Linked DNA regions of Homo sapiens: region 2 is linked to region 1. The links come from fine-mapping of genetic effects on gene expression. A gene starts in region 1. The other region holds a variant in brackets. All regions are shown on one strand. Distances are between the middles of the regions.

Region 1 (8,338 bases):
AAAAAGATGGCAGTGACCCGGACCAGGACAAAGCCAGTGCCCTTGCACTGCGATATCATCGGGGATGCTTTCTGGAAGGAACATCCAGAGATTCTAGATGAAGACAGCTGACCCTTTTGCGCTTCAGTTCTGGTGTGCTTAACCATGCAAGCCCTCCCACCTCCCAGGGCTCCTTGCCTTAGGTGGCTGTAGCATCCCTACCACCCAGGACACTGGTGCGAATGACACAACTCAAGTTGGGAGGGGAACAGGGAAGGAAGGGATGGATGGGGGTGGTGTATCTTACTCTGTTTAAGCAGAACACCTTGTTTGCGGTGTTGGAACATGGTTCCTTTGGCAGAAGTGCTTTTTTTTTAATCGCAGTACTATTTTTATAAAGCAAGAACTATTCCATGCCTTGGAGAATGAATCATTTTTAGATTGTGACATAAATCTTGTAAAAACCTGTCAGTTATTTTCATCTATGAGAGAAGAGGAGCCCAAACTCTCGCCCACCTGTTCTTAACCAGAAAACCCACTGACTTTGAAAATCTCACCTCTGCCACCCATCTACTTGCATTCGTCTTTGGCAGACCTCAAGATAAATATGGGTTAATGCCTGCATGATGCCTCTGAATTCAGGAATTGCAGGGAAAACTCGGGGCTTTGTGCCAGTCTCTAAGTTGGCAACTTTGGCTGAACAAATGAGTAGTGGCTTCAGTGTCCTTGCGTACACATTCTGTGGATTGATTTAATGGAGTTGTCAGCATGATCATCATCTTCTAGCCAGGGGCATAGTTGCCAAGGCCATTTACCTCTTTCTAAGAAGAAACAGAATTATGTGTATATATGAGAGAAAGAAACAAGAATGCGTGAATGAGGATGAAGAAACATTTACCCCATGTACTCAAGACATTTCAGTTTTAAAAGTCACTTTCCTATTAGACTTCTTGAAAAACATTCTCACATAGCCTCTATGTAATCAGACAAATGACATTTGATTTCAAGAGCAGAGGGGTAAACATCCTCTGCTAATCGACAGGTAGCAGGTGTCAGAGGAGGCATAATATTAATAGCGCCACCTTCTGTTGGGTCAGTGGAGATGGGTGAGGAACAGCACAGAGCAGCAGGGATCATCACATGCAGCCAAACTTGGCCTCTGAAGGGGGAAGGTAGTGGGAATAGGTGGTGAGAGAACTCACATTTTTCTCTTGTCCTGGTTTTATATTTCGGAGGGAAAGGATTATTTGGCCCCATTAAGAATTAAGAGGCTGGGTGCGGTGGCTCACGTCTGTAATCCCAGCACCTTGGGAGGCCCAGGCAGGCAGATCACCTGAGGTCGGGAGTTCGAGACCAGCGTGACCAACGTGGAGAAACCCCCGTCTCTACTAAAAATACAAAAAATTAGCTGGGCATGGTGGTGCATGCCTGTGATTCCAGCTACTTGGGAGGTTGAGGCAGGAGAATCATTTGAACTCAGGAGGCGGAAGTTGCGGTGAGCCAAGATTGTGCCATTGCACTCCAGCCTGGGCAACGAGCGAAACTACATCTCAAAAAAAAAAAAAAAAGACATGGCTGGGCATGGTGGCTCACACCTGTAATCCCAGCACTTTGGGGGGCTGAGGCAGGTAGATCACTTCAGGCCAGGAGTCCAAGACCAGCACGTCCAACATGGCAAAACCCAGTCTGTACTAAAAATAGAAAAATTAGCTGGGCGTGGTGGCGTGTGCCTGCAATACCAGCTACTCAGAAGGCTGAAGCAGGATAATTGCTTGAACCTGGTAGGTGGAGGTTGCAGTGAGCTGAAATCATGCCACTGCACTCCAGCCTGGGTGACAGAGCAAAACTGCCTTAAAAAAAAAAATTAAGAGACAGCCCGTGTCCCAGTCCCTCGTCTTGCACTGCAGAATTTACATCTAAGAAGAAAATGTATTTTTGAAAGGGTGATGGCTGGCCTCATCCCTCACTAATTGACAACCCATCTGTCGATGCCATTTTTTCCCTTCCTGTTCTCACTCCACAGAAAGAGGAGATACGGTTCTTGTTTGGTAATTGCTAAAATCTCTTTGAGGAAAGAAATAAAGATGTCAACTCCTTTGGCCTGCTTTTTCATTTATTTTTCTTAGACAAATAGACTATATGAAATCTAACTTTTGTGTATATCTCTGGGTAGCCTAGGATACACATGCCCTCATCATAGCAGTGGTTCACAAACTTCTGGATGCAAAAAAAAAAATTACTTGGAATGCTTGTTTAAAATGCACATTTTTGGCTCCTCCCAGCCCCCAGAAAGGTTTGAAGCTCAACAATCTTTTTTTTTTTTTTTTTTTTTTTTGAGATGGAGTCTCGCTCTGTCAGCTCACTGCAACCTCTGCCTCTCAGGTTCAAGTGATTCTCCTGCCTTAGCCTCCTGAGTAGCTGGGACTACAGACACGCACCACCATGCCTGGCTTAATTTTTGTATTTTTAGTAGAGACGGGGGTTTTCACTACATTGGCCAGGCTGGTCTCGAACTGCTGACCTCGTGATCCGCCCGCTTCAGCCTCCCAAAGTGCTGGGATTACAGGTGTGAGCCATCACGCCCAGCCAGCAATCTGATTTTTAGCCCCAAAGGCTTCTGATATGTGTGGTTGTCAATATACAGCAGCTTCGGCAGCAAGGCCCTCGGTATACTGTGATAGGCTGGGTGGGAAGGAAGTAAGATAATGTAGCTGTTGATTGGCAATTTTAACTTAATGGTAAGTTGACAGCATTTTATATCAAAATACAAGTAGGCATTAGAGTACAAATTTTCAAGAAAACCACCCAGAGAAACGTGCTTTCTGTGGGTCTTAAATGACACTATAAAGGCTATCACTCAGTTTTGCCATATGATGTGGGGATGAGCGCTCATTTGTTGAATTGCCAGCAATTCTGCAGCTTTGAGTTTTTTATTCAGGCAGGGGGTTTTGAACAAAGTGATAAGCTGGGTTCAAAACCTGTGCCATAAAGAAACCTGTACTGCTACCAATTAGAAGCCACTGTTTGATGGTTTTTGTTTTTTTTTTTTTTTTGAGATGGAGTCTCCCTCTGTCACCCCAGCTGGAGTGCAGTGGCGCGATCTCAGCTCACTGCAACCTCCGCCCCTCCAGGTTTAAGCAATTCTCTGCCTCAGCCTCCAGCGTAGCTGGGATTACAGGCGCGTGCCACCACGCCCGGCTAATTTTTTGTATTTTTAGTAGAGACGGGGTTTCACCATCTTGGCCAGGCTGGTCTTGAACTCCTGACCTCGTGATCCACCCGCCTCGGCCTCCCAAAGTGCTGGGATTACAGGCGTGAGCCACCGCGCCCGGCCTGCTTGATGGTTTTGTCTTCGCTGTAGTATGCATTCATCCCAAGGTATATTTCAGAGTTGTATATTAATTTTCATCTTGCTCTCTAAGGTACTCTCCAGTATTCTCTTGGACTTCCTAAGTCTTAAGGAAACTGAAATGTACACAAAGCAACTAGTACAGAGAATACTAGTTGATGGCAGTTTGAGAATGTGGTGACGGGCAAGTGATGTGTGGCCTGTAGGTGAGTGGAAACATTTTGGCTCTGCTGGATGAGAAGGTTATATCTGGGCCTTCCGCGAAGAGTAGACTGTCATTTTAAAATCAACCAAAAAATATTTTGCCGAACTGAGACTATAAAGTAGCAAGTGGTATGATCAGGTCTTGGGAATTTTCCATAGTTTCCTCCAAGAGCTGGATCTTCGTTTCTTCCAATTGGTTAGCAATGCTTAGAAAGACAGTGATATAATGAATTTTCTTTGATACTAAGCACAAATTTGTTTATGCACAGGGTATAGGAAATGGAGGACAGACACCCAGTATTGGCTGACATGCATCTATTATGAGCTCTGTAGGCAGTATCTCTCCATCCTGAGGTCAGTTCTATAAGGTAGGTGCTATTTATATCATATTTCAGACGAGAAACACGCTAAATACTTTGAGCCCAGATAGGCTATTCTTCCCACCCTATCAGTAGTACTCAGCATGGAAGCAAACTGAGACATTCATTGCCTTCCTCCAGACGCTTCCTGCCAGCTCAAGCTAGGATGCGATCCCGAGCTCATTCCCGGGGAACCCAGAGTATTAACAAACACCCTAAGTGATAATGATACAGACGGGGAAACTGCGCTGGAGCAGGTCAAGCAGCAGTCGACAGCGTTAACCTGTCAGCTATGGGAGGAGGCGGTGCGAGGCGCGGGCTGGTCGGAGCCGCGTACCACGCCCCCCGGCCCGGGTGGAACGAGGACAGGTGCTGCCCTCCCGCGGCCGCTTCGGCGCAGTGCAACCCCGCGCCGCGGCTGCGCAGTGCCGCCCTCTGGCGGCTTCGTTCCTTCTTCCCATCGGCCTCGGCTTGCGGGCCTTTCAAACATGGAGGAGCGGGAGCGGGGGGCGAGGTCGGCTGGCGCCGGGAGCCCCGCGCGCCCGCCCAGCCCGCGGCTGGATGTCAGCTCTGACAGCTTCGACCCGCTGCTGGCCCTGTACGCGCCCCGCCTGCCTCCCATTCCCTACCCCAATGCCCCCTGCTTCAACAACGTGGCGGAGTACGAGAGCTTCCTCAGGACCGGAGTCCGGGGCGGCGGGCGCGGGCGCGGGCGGGCTCGGGGCGCGGCCGCGGGCTCTGGGGTTCCCGCCGCACCCGGGCCCTCGGGCAGGACTCGTCGCCGCCCGGACGCGCCCGCCCCGGACCCCGAGCGCATCCAGCGCCTCCGCCGTCTCATGGTGGCCAAAGAGGAAGGGGACGGGGCCGCAGGAGCGGGCCGGAGGGGTCCGGGTCGGAGCAGGAAGGCGCCACGCAACGTGCTCACGCGAATGCCCTGTGAGTCCGCGGGCCGGGCGGGAAGCGGGGCAGCCGCCGTCCGGAAGCTGGCTGCCGAGGGGGCGTCTGCGGGGCGGCGGTGGCCGGGCGCGGGTCTGCACGTATTGCGGGAGCGCCTTGGTGAAAATTTGCGGGGATCATCAGTGACTATGGGGTGGATCTGCTTGAGTAATGTGGGTAATGAGGGCGTGGGGAGGGTCACCCTGAGTAAGAAAAGGGGCTGTAGGAGCAACAGAGGGAGAGTGGTAAGGCTGTAGTGGTCATAAGAAGCCGTGGGAAAGGTCTTCAGCGGTAATCGGGGCCCATGGAAGGGTCACAGAGGTGATGAGCCTGCCGAGAGGGTCTACAGGATTGATGGAGGACCTGGAGAGGTGGCGGGGCTACAGAGTTTGGGGGACATCATAGGGACGTCTACAGAGGTGATGAGAGGTCTTAGAGACCACAGTGAGAGGTAAGGTGGGGCGGAAAACGGGAGACGTGGGGGAGCGCACAGCCAATATTAGGGGAAGGAGAGTATTTGGTCAGTGGGATTTGAGGATGATCGGATGGAGTGTGGGGAGATTTGTTCAGATAGCACAGGCGCATAATCCCATAACCCCTGTACATTGACAGCTCCTTCTCGAGTGCGATAAGCAGAAGGGCTGCAGAGTCTTGATACACATATGTTCACATTACTAAGTCACAAGTGCTGAAATGCAGCAGGCACAGAATGCCACTAAAACACAGACGCTGTTTTACAGCCACTCTGCCTGGCTGGGTGCAGGACTGTGTCTGTCAGGCTCATATTACCATATGTGCAGGTTATTTTAAGTTCTAAAGGTGTAAATGGCACAAGGGAATTTCTTGGAGCCTCCTCATAGATCCTTAGAGTAAAGCTGTAAACAGCAGAGGCTCTAATGTGTGAGTTAGGTCTTGTATAAATGGAATAAAAACAGCCTAAGGTTATCTCTTTTGTCATCTGGCAAGCAGTTCTGACATCTGCCCTGTGAACACAATGACCTACTTAGCCATTCAAAGCATCTGTATCCTGATAATTAAATTGTTACCTTATTAAGTCACTGTCTTTTGGATGGAGAGGTGTGCCAAGCAAGGGACTGTTTTGCTTCATTCCTAGAAATTTGTTTATTAAGAGAGAACATCCTGAAACGCTCTGTGCTGTTCCGTGTGCCTTCGTTGGATGTCTTACCATGCCACAGCATCCCTGCCCAAGCTAGGATTTACCCCGGCCTGCTTGCCTGGCTGTAACACAAAGACAGTATGCTTGTTCCCAAAATGAGAGCAGTTTGGGGGACCTTAATTTGCCTATGCAATTTGCCACCATTAGGTAGTTGAAATGCACTCCAAGTCTCATTGCAACATTTATTTCTATTTTACCAGTTATTGCTTTGCTACCAAGATTGTCAAGGGAAAGGAATATTCCTGTGTATTGCTATGTGGTGGGTGGTTTTAGCTTTCCCTATAGAGCACTTTACTGTAATGGTATGACAGTGTGTGAAGACCAGCTTTGTCAACTTCTTATGATTAAGTATATATCCCTGGAATCAAGATCTCAGAGAATATGCCCTACATACTGAAAATTTTCACCATGGCACTGCAGACAGTTGAGTGTACATGAGAGAAAGGCATTGACGTCGCACAGAGTTGATGACCTTCAGAAAGCAAGAAAACAACAGAAACATGGGTGAGGATTGGATTCATTCAAGAAAGAGTTCCTACTTGAGGGTGAAGGGTGGGAGGAGGGTGAGAATCACAAAACTACCTATTGGGTACTGTGATCACTACCTGGGTGACAAAATAATTTGTGCACCAAACCCCAGTGACACACGATTTACACCTGCAACAAACCTTTCGTGTACCTCCTGATCCAAAAACAAAAGTTGGAAGGGGGGAAAAAAAAGAACTAGGTATGTTTTATATGTATGCCACAGTTTTAATTTAAAAAAATATATGCCTACTCTAAACTCTGATTGGATACAGTTGCTCAGGAAAATCAAAATATAGATACCAGTAAGATAATACTATTTGTGGACATATACAAATGCTTTCTGGAAAAAAATGCCTATGCATTTGAGAATGCATAATCCTTTGCAAAATATTCACATAAAATGTAAGTTCCATCAGGCTGTAACAGCAAGAAGAAGCTTTGTTAGGTCATATCATCAGTGAAACATAATGAAGAATACATGAGGAGCTACATTTTGTCGCTGACTTTAAAATGATGTATTTCATCAATTCAGATCCAAGTTACCCATCCAAATTCACAGAGAGGACAGTGTGGAATGTTTATGAAAAAACAAGGAGTGCAAAATTAAGTGTAATGGTGTTTTAACTGTAAAATATTTCACTTTGTATCTCTGTCATAGAATCTCTTTGAATTCCCTTGTGGAGCAGTTGTATTCTTTTCCTTGCAGTAATAAAATTTTAAAAGTAGCCAGGCACAGTGGCTCACACCTGTAATCCCAGCACTTTGGGAGGCCGAGGCGGGCAGAACACTTGAGGCCAGGAGTTCAAGACCAGCCTGGCCAACGTGGTGAAACCCTGTCTCTACTAAAAATACAAAAATTAGTTGGGCATGGCAGCATCTGCCTCTAGTTCCAGCTGTTCAGGAGGATGAGGCACGAGAATCGCTTGAACCCTGTAAGTGGAAGCTGCAGTGAGCCGAGATCATAGGGACATCATAGAGACCTCTACAGAGGTGATACGAGGTCTCAAAAAAAAGTAATAATAAAAGTATAGGAGGCTGTTGCAATACTGGGAATACTAAAGAAGAAAAAAAGCATAGGAGGAAAGGTTTTTCGTCATCATTAAGCCTAAGCCATCACTGATACCAACAAAGAACTCACACACAAGCTGTACTTGCAAGTGGAATGCAATTGCTTTTCCTCCTTTTTAATATTGACATGCCTATAGAGATGGTAAGACAAGACTAAAGAGCATTATCCTCTTTTCCACATAATTCTAGTGTCTATATTTCTCCTTAGTATCGCAGCACCATACCTAGCCCACGGTGGTTCTGGTTTATAATTGTGCTTCAAGCAAGCTTTTTCTAGGTATATCTGTCACTGTGAAATGAACTGGTGTGTTCAAGCTCACGTCTTGACATTATAAAGCTGTAAGAAAAAGTGTTATCATTACTTTGTTTTAGCTACAGGTGTGTTGGTGTGCAGCCTGTGCCGGTGTGAACAAGTGTGTGTGGTCAATCCAAAATGCATATGACATGCAGGGTTTGGCTCCTAGACCATTGTCTAGGTGAATGGCTTGTCTCCAGTTCCAAATTCAGTTTTCCTGCAGGGAGCCTACACAGTCCTTTTACTCGCACACATCCTGCTGAGAAGGATTTCAAAACAAACCTGATTTATTGGGCCTCTGACGTGATACCATGATTGAAAATTTGTTTGAGTCCTGTTGTTGTAGTTTACTTTGATTGCTGAAATAATTTCCCACAATATGGTGTCTTGATGTTTTCATTTTAATAAAGTGATATTCTTTGGATAACTTTGACTTCACTTCC
Region 2 (8,338 bases), 810 kb after region 1:
TGCCCTCTCTTCCTTGTACAGAGATCCCTTAGAACACATGCAGCACACACACCTCAGATGCTGCCATCTCTTTAAGAGCTGATGTTGGGATTCTCCCTGATTCTTTCCCACTTCCTTCCCCAGTAGTTACTTGACCAGGAACACGTGGATTACATTTCACTTAAAAACACAGAGGGAATTTCAAATTAGCAGGAAACATGTTTGGCAAAAACTAAAATACTTTGCAAACCATCTGGGATGTTCTCTTGTTAGTACTGGAGCTGAGTGCCACTGTCCTCCATGGAGAAATGATTTTTTACAAAATCCACATTAGTTCCAAGACAAAAGGACTCTGCACACTTAAGCAAGACCAACGGGAGTGAATAATGTTGGCCTCACTATGTCTTGAGAAAGGAATTGGCAAGCAATTGTATGTAAAACGAAGGTGGGAGTTCAAGGACATTTTGGAGAGACTCACAGCAAGAACTATTGCATAAGGCGGCCATGTACCATTTCCAAATTATATAATAGTTACCATTACTGAGTATTTCCCATGTTCTAGCACAAGCACCTTACACCTTTACCACAAGTAATCCTCCCAACAACCACATGAAATAGGTCCTATTATTGTCCACATTCCAATTAAAGGAAACTAACAATTAGCTTAAATAATTTTCCCCCAGGCCACACAGCTGGTAAGTGTTAGAGGCAGGGCTCAAACCCAGATCCAGGACTAGCTAACTCCGGGCTCTGTGCCTCCTACCATTATTCTACACTGGACTCCCCATAAGTTTCCCTGTGGCATTAGTTATGTTTCCCATGCCCTTTGAGTACAGCAGTGCTGGGCATACGGTAAGCATGCAATAATTACTTATTTCCTCATTCATGTATTTAAAAATATGTATCAAAACTTACTATATGCTAGGCACCATGACAGGTGATAGGGATTCAATGGTGATGTAAGACTGGTGGACTTAAATTAATTTTTTAAAGGCATCATGGGATTTTGTATCGGCTATCTCTGTATCTAGAAGATGTCAGACTCATGGAAGTTTTGTCCATTTTATTCCCTTTGCTTATCCATTCTTTCTTGTTTACAGAAAGACTTAATTTTCTGTCTCATATCTCTGTCCTTCTTGCCCCACTATTTTTCCCCCTTCTCCAAAAATCCCAGCCCCAAAAACAGTCTACATATTGTGAAAAAGATTTCTCAAACCACAAGGGTGATGTAACTTTAGGCCTGTGTTTTCTCTCTCACACACACAAAATATTGGATATGAGTGAGATTTTAAAAAATTGGTTTTTAAATGTGATGAAAAGAGTGTCCTTTTCACCAGAACAAAACAACCCTTAATGCTGAAGCCTCCTTCCCGATATGGTTGGCTTCCAAATATGAAGAAATCTGTGCATTGGGCCACAGGCTCCAGACAAAGTCTGAGGACAAAGGAAACCTGTGGACTGGAAAGATCATCGATGTTTAGAATGAACTGGAGGCTCCCTCCAGGTTTTGGAGACTGTGGTTAAAGACATGGCCTATATTTCAATGGGCAGCAGCCCAGCAAGGCTCGTTTGTAATCCAGCTGATACGACAGGGTTTTTGCCATGGGAAGTGTTTGCATTTGAGCATTTCTCAGCCAGTCACTAGCCATCAATTACTTAGGAGTCAGATCTTGGCCAGAGGCCCCCGTTCCACAAAGTATGTCATTCTGTATTCACAGAAATGGAGTTTACAGTCCTGCCGCTAAATTAAAACTGGTGCTTCCAAATTAAAAGCAGACAGGACAGATGTGCAGGGAAGAAACGGAGACTCACATCTTTTGTGAATCAGCTAATCCTTGTGCCAGAACTTGAAATCAGCTTTTCCTGTAGAGGCCTCGACTACACCACACCTATGTAAGCTGCATTAAATGAGGTGGAATTAACATTTTACCAGATATTTCCTCTGCTCTGCCATCTGGACAAGGATAAAGAGCTCGGTGAAGCCCAGAATCCCAAAAACTGTGCAACATGAGAACATGGGGCCAGCACCTGAGGGTGGCCACATCTAGCCTGTCCCCTCATTGAGCAATATGAAGTCATGTAGGACACCAGAGGGTGGATGAAAAGCATGTGAACCAAGTATGCTGCTTCTAACGATTAACGGTTCAAGCACAATCTCAAAACTCCAGTGTCTGCACTCCTCTAGGGAAAATGATAAAAAATACGATTTTCACTATTCTGCCTGCTCCGTTAATCACCTCATGATATAAATATTAGCTTTATTTTATAGGGCATTTATGATATTAAATTTGAAAACCTCAAATATGATCTGGCAAATTCATGCTTAAAAACCTTCAGTGGCTTCTCATAGCCCTCACGATTAAGAGCAGCTTCCTTGATTGGGTCACTAAAGCCTGCAGGGTCTGGTTTCCACCTCATGTAACACTACTTCTCTCCTCTACTCTGTGCTGCAGACACATTGACTTTCTTTCCATTTCTCCTGCACACCATATTCTCTTCCACTTCAAGTTGTTCCTTCTGCTGCAAAGCTTTTCCAGCCATCCTCTTTTATAACCTCATTATTAAGAAAAAAATTCACATACACACAATTCACCCACTTAAAGTGGACTATTCAGTGGTTTCAAGCATATTCATAGAGTGGTGCAAGCATCATTACATCTATTTCAAAACGTTTTTATCACCCTTTAAAAAACCCTTTTACCTATAAGCTTTCACTTTCCATTTTCCCTCAACCCTAGGAAATCATTAATCTACTTTGCATCTCTCTTCTGTCTCCTATTGCAGACATTCAAACAAATAGGATTATCCAATATGTCGTATTTTGTTTATGACTTCTTTTACTTATCATAATGTTTTCAAGGTTCATCCATGTTGTACCGTGGATCAGTGTTTTTTTCTTAGTCATCACGTAATATCCTATTGTATGGATATACCACATTTAGTTTATCCATTCACAAGTTGATGGACATTTGAGTTACTTTCATTTTTTGACTATTATGAACAATGCCGCTATGGGCATTCATGTACAAGCTTTTGTATGGATGTATGTGTTTATTTATCTTGGGTTTATACCTAAAGATAGAACTGCTAGGTGATAAGGAAACTATGTTTAACATGTTGAGGCAACCACCATAATTTTAACTAATGTTAACTACCACTCATGCTTTGAGTTTCAACTGAAATGTAACTTCCTCACAAATGCATCCCTGTCCCTTCCACTTCCTCCTAAGGTCTCCTGCTAAATGTCTCTCATACATACTGTACCTTTTCTTCATTGTCTTAGCCTAGTTGGTTGGTATGTATTTAGGTACATAATGATTTTATATATGTCTGTCTCTCCTCTTAGACTATAAGTTAGATGGCCCTTTAGCTCATGGCTATATCCCCAAAACTCTTACTAAGGCACTGTGTCAGCCAGTCTTCAAAATGCCCTCCAAGGATTCCACCTCCTGGCATTCATGCTTTTATGTATACCTTCCCCTGGGTGCAAACTTGTCTCAGTGATGGACAAATAAAATAGGAGCTTGGAGACTAGGTTTTCTCTCTCTCTCTCTCTCTCTCTCTCTCTCTCTCTGTCTCTCTCTCTCCTTGCTTTAGGGGAAACCAGTGGTTAATTCATACTGACACTGTATAGAGAGCCCCATTTGGCAAGAAGCTAAGATCTTTTGCCAATAGCCATGTGAATGAACCATCTTGGAAGTAGTTCCATCAGCCCCAGTCAAGCTTTCAGATGACTGCAGCCAGAGTCCACATATTAATGGCAACCTCTTTAGGGATCCTAAGGCAAAACCATCCAGCTAATTCCTTGAATTCATGACCCATAGGAATTGTGGGATAATAAATGTCTGTTGTTTTAAGTTATTAAATTTCGAGGGTAGTTTGTTATACAGTAATAGAAAATGAGCATAGTTATGCTGCCTGGAACATAATAGAAGCTAAGTAAGTGATGAATGAATAAGTAAAGGAATAAACACCCTAGGCTTCTCAGAAATAAAGAGAGTAAAGGCTACACTTATGAACACTTCCTAGATGTTAACTGTATGGGCTGAATGTTTATGTCCCCTGCCAAATTTATATATTGAAGACCTAACCCCCAATATGATTGTACTTGGAAGTGGAGCCTTTGGGAAGTAAGATGGTTAACATTAAGTCATTATGGTGGGACTTTCATGCAAGGATCAGTGCTCTTATAGGAAGAGGAAGACAGAGATCTCTCTCCCCGATGTGCATGCACTGAAGAAAGACCATGTGAGCACACAGCTGGAACGCAGGTATCTACAGCCGGAAAGCAGACTCTCACCAGGAACCAAATCTGACAGCAGCTTTATCTTGAACTTTCCAGCCTCTAGAACCATGAGAAATAAATGCTGCTTAAATCACCCAGTCTATGGTATTTTGTTATAGCAGTTCAAGGTAATTAATACAGTGTTTATATCAGAATCTCATTTAGTGATCACATCAATCCTCAATGGTACAAACAATGACATGCATTTTACTGGTAAGGAAACTGAGGCCCAAAAAAATCTAGGAATCAAGAATCAGCCCATGTGGCTTTTGATGGGCTAAAGCATGAAAAAAATCATACCATGCTCCCAGCTGGCAGTGAAGACAACTCACTCAACCA[C/T]TCAATGTAACTTTCAGAAGTTCCAGGACCTGAAGCAAGATGCAAGATGAAAGATCACTGAGATAGAACCTTACCATTTCATTTCCAACTTTATTGCTTAATTTAATTATTAATATATATTTTTAATTTTTTATTAAGGTGAAATTCATATAACATTAAATTAATGCCTTTAAAGTGTACAATTCAGTAGCATTTAGTACATTCACAATGTTGTGTAACCATCATGCCTCATTAGTTCCAAAATATATGAATTTATTTTAGTCCTTGGTGCAGAGGATTGAATTTTAGTGACACACCTTAGGTCAAGGCATATCAATATCTTCATCAGGGCAGGGCCCTTTCTTCAAGTCACTTATTTATGCCTCCCCTTCATCCTTCATCCCAGGAGCTATAGCCCCAACCACACTAACATGTCTAATGCCTTCCTTCTTGTTTACCTGTGCTTTGTTTAATAAAACCCTCTTGGCTTTCCAACTTTGATCTTTCATTTTCCCTTAACATTAAGAAAATAACAGGGCTTTACAATTCATCTATCTTAAGGAGGCAGCTTTGCTTTTGTAGAAAAAGTGCCAAATAAAGAGTCAAGGATCCTTTGTTCCAAACTAGAGTTCCACAAATTATCACCCATGGGTCAAATCCAGCCTTCAACCTGTTTTATAAATAAAAGTTGTTGGAATACAACCATGTTTCTTTTTTTACGTATTGTCTGTGGCTGTTTCCTTACCACAATGGCAGAGTTGAGTAGTCGTGACAGAGCCTGCAAAGTCCACAAAGCCTAAAATATTTACCATCTTGCCCTTTACAGAAAAGGTTTGCCAAGCCCTGCTCCAAACCACAGTCTGTCACCTATAACTCTTCATATGATCAGATGAATCTGTTCACTCCCTGGGCCTTAATGTCTAGTTCATAAAATCGAGGCCATGATACTAAAACTATAGTTTTTATTTCTCTCTCTCTTTTGTTTCTAACCTTCTTTTTCTCTGTGTTATGTAGTAGAATACATTTTTAAAACAAAATATTTATGTGCAAATCTACTACAGAAAGTACAGAAGTAGTTTCTCTGGTAGAAGAAGATTGGGACCCTACAATCCTGCCTGGCTAGCTTTAGCCATCCCAGTCTCTCCATCAGCCTCTGAGGTGCCATATTGATATGCCAGGCCCATGAAAAACTCCGTGAGAAAGCAACCCACCCCTTGGATACTTTTAACGTCAGTTCCCTTTCATAGCATCCTGTTGTTATATGGTAGTACAGAAAGTGATGAATTTTGGAATTAGGTCAAATTCCAACTCTAACATTTGCTGTGTAGCTTGAACCAGTCACTTTAACCTCTCTGAGCCTCAGTGTGCTCACTTGCTTGGGAAAATGGAGATAAATAGTCTGGACATCACATGCTGGTTGTAAGGATTAAAGACCCCAATTATTTCTAGAATACCTGGCATAGAAATCTGCATTCAGTGAATTGTAGCTACAAAGGATACAAAATAATTTTTGTGTGAGGGAATCCATGTGATACTTTTTTGGGTGTGAACTCAATTTGAATCTTCACTTTTTGGACACTGACACTGAGGCTGGAAAGGTCAGCCTTTTTATTGTAATAGAAATCTGTTACTTATGTGCTATGATTTGGGGACACTTCCGAATATCTACCCCTGCCTCCAAATGGCATCTACCATGCCCGGCTGAATGCTTGACACCCACCATAGTAGTCAGCAGACCCTGGGCTGAGACAGTGCCTCTTTAAAGAGCCATAAAAATCCCAGACAGAAATAAGAGGTTAAGCCATTGTCTTCTGCAAGGATTTAGCTTGAATCAATCAATTTTCAGGTTTAAGCCTTTGAAGGAAAGAGGCATAAATAAGGCTTAGAAAAGGCCAAAATGTGTAATGACTTCCAGAGAACAAACAAAAGTCAACTGCAGAGGCCTCCCAAGGAGAATGGAAAGGCCTCTGGATGGGGAGACACCCTGTGTTGAGTCAACCTCACCTCTTCCAGGCTGTGTGACTTGAGGCAGTCTCTTAACCTCTCTGAGCCTCCACTTGATATCCAAAATTAAGGCCAATAAGACTGACTGGCCTCCAGGGTGACGGTGAGTGTGAATGCCTGGTTCCAGTCCTGGCACAAAGCAGGCACCGGGTTAAGGCTTCCTGAATGAATCAGTGCAGCATCACACTAGATACTATGAAAGTAGTACTTGAACATCAAAAATGATCATGTAACCTTGAAACAGGCATTTGATGGAACACCAGAGAATGGAGCATCAAGGAGTTGTGGATCCACCTGAAGGCACTGGAAAAGGAAAATGGGGCACAGAAAGGTAGGGAAAGGTTGATAAAGGTGAGGGACAAACGTTAACTACTAAGAGAACCTGGGACCCACCACAGTCTGTGGTGTGGAACAACCAGTGGTTTGATCCAAGTCAGAATTGCATTGAATCATGTCAGACGGGCACCGAATCAAAAGTAGTACTCTCACAAGAGACAACAGGCACTAACCATGTGCCAGCCACAGTGTAAGCATGCCATGCACATTGCCATTTAATGCTTTTACAGCAGTGTGATTTCGGCAGTTAGCCTAATTTACCATAAAGGCCGTTTCCTGTGCAGTAGGCTTTGGGTTCCTGAACTTGCTGTGGCTGATGGACTATGAAAAGAATTGCCAAGAGAGAAAAGAGCCATGGTACCCCCTTCCCCATCTCTTTCTCTGCTGTGATGAACTGGAACCAACTGCTGTGGGTTGATTGACATAGTGATGTCAGAAGAAGAAAAGATCCCAGGTCTCCGAGTCTCCTGAAATAGAAGAAATTTCTCCATCTGCATGAGTGAGAAATAAATGTTTATGGTCCTAATCCACTGAGATGCCAAGGTTTATTTTACATTGGAGGATTACATGGAACCCATCCCGCCAAACACAGCAGCTAACATTTATTTAGTGCTTGCTACTACTTGAAAAACTTCATATATTTTTAAAATTTCATTTCATTCTCACTTTCATTTTACACGTAAAGAAGAGAGTAAATTATCTGAGAATATGAGAATATACAGGATGTACCAGAGCCTGAATTTGAACCTAGGCATTCCGGCACCAGAGCTGCCTTCTGCTTTTTTTTTTTTTAGACAGAGTCTTGCTCTGCTCTGTTGCCCAGGCTGCTTGCTGGAGCGCAGCGGTGCAATCTCGGCTCACTGCAACTTTTGCCTCCCGGGTTCAAGCGATCCTCCTGCCTCAACCTCCCAAGTAGCTGGTTAAGCTGCTTTCTTATAGAAGGAAAAGTTGAGAAATTAAGGGACTTGCCTATCATCACAGAATATGGAAATGGCAGAGCCATGATTCAAAACCAGGTCTGTTTGGTTTTACATTATGGGAAAACCATTATGGGAAAGTCGCAGCCATTTTATGTTCTCTTCTTTGCAGTTTTGGTCCAGTAGGTCCACTCACTGTCCAGCATGCAAGATGTGAAAACGCTCTAAAAGTTGAGAGGAGGTGTTTCCAGCCACTGCATCAGTGTAAGAGTTGGCAGGGGCTGTCTGGCTTGCCTCGTGCTCAAATCCCCATTTGCTGTGGAGGCCACAGATGCTCTGGCCTGACAGTAAGACAGCCCCTCTTTTGGACAGCACTTCCCACCACCACGAAGCTTCTCTGTGCAGGGCTTGCAAAACTCAGCAACACCACTGTGGGCGGTCCCTGGAGAGGCAGTGAGTCTTGTTATCGACAGGCGTATTGACTTTCAAAACCACAGTG

Alleles and levels. Alleles are on the strand shown, and positions count from the first base shown. SD is a standard deviation of normalised expression in the study named.
For the expression in lymphoblastoid cells of the gene that starts at base 4,341 in region 1, C is the high allele of the variant in region 2 and T is the other (large effect, 0.80 SD a copy in GTEx).

What was found.
Region 2: its variant is fine-mapped to the expression of LSM11 in lymphoblastoid cells (GTEx, PIP 0.96).

What each region holds. Positions count from the first base shown.
Region 1 is chr5:157,739,372-157,747,709 of GRCh38, forward strand. It overlaps LSM11 (LSM11, U7 small nuclear RNA associated), which reads left to right and starts at 4,341. Exons shown (of 4, transcript NM_173491.4): 1 at 4,341-4,827. The coding sequence starts at 4,380. THG1L (tRNA-histidine guanylyltransferase 1 like) reads left to right here. Exons shown (of 6, transcript NM_017872.5): 6 at 1-2,078. The coding sequence ends at 111. RefSeq lists a silencer at 4,125-4,684 and an enhancer at 4,704-5,204.
Region 2 is chr5:158,552,105-158,560,442 of GRCh38, forward strand. No RefSeq gene overlaps it. Among named protein-coding and RNA genes, the nearest start is that of LINC02227, 150 kb to the left of the region's middle. RefSeq lists enhancers at 7,985-8,154, 8,165-8,214. The variant C/T (reference allele first, on the strand shown) is at 4,604.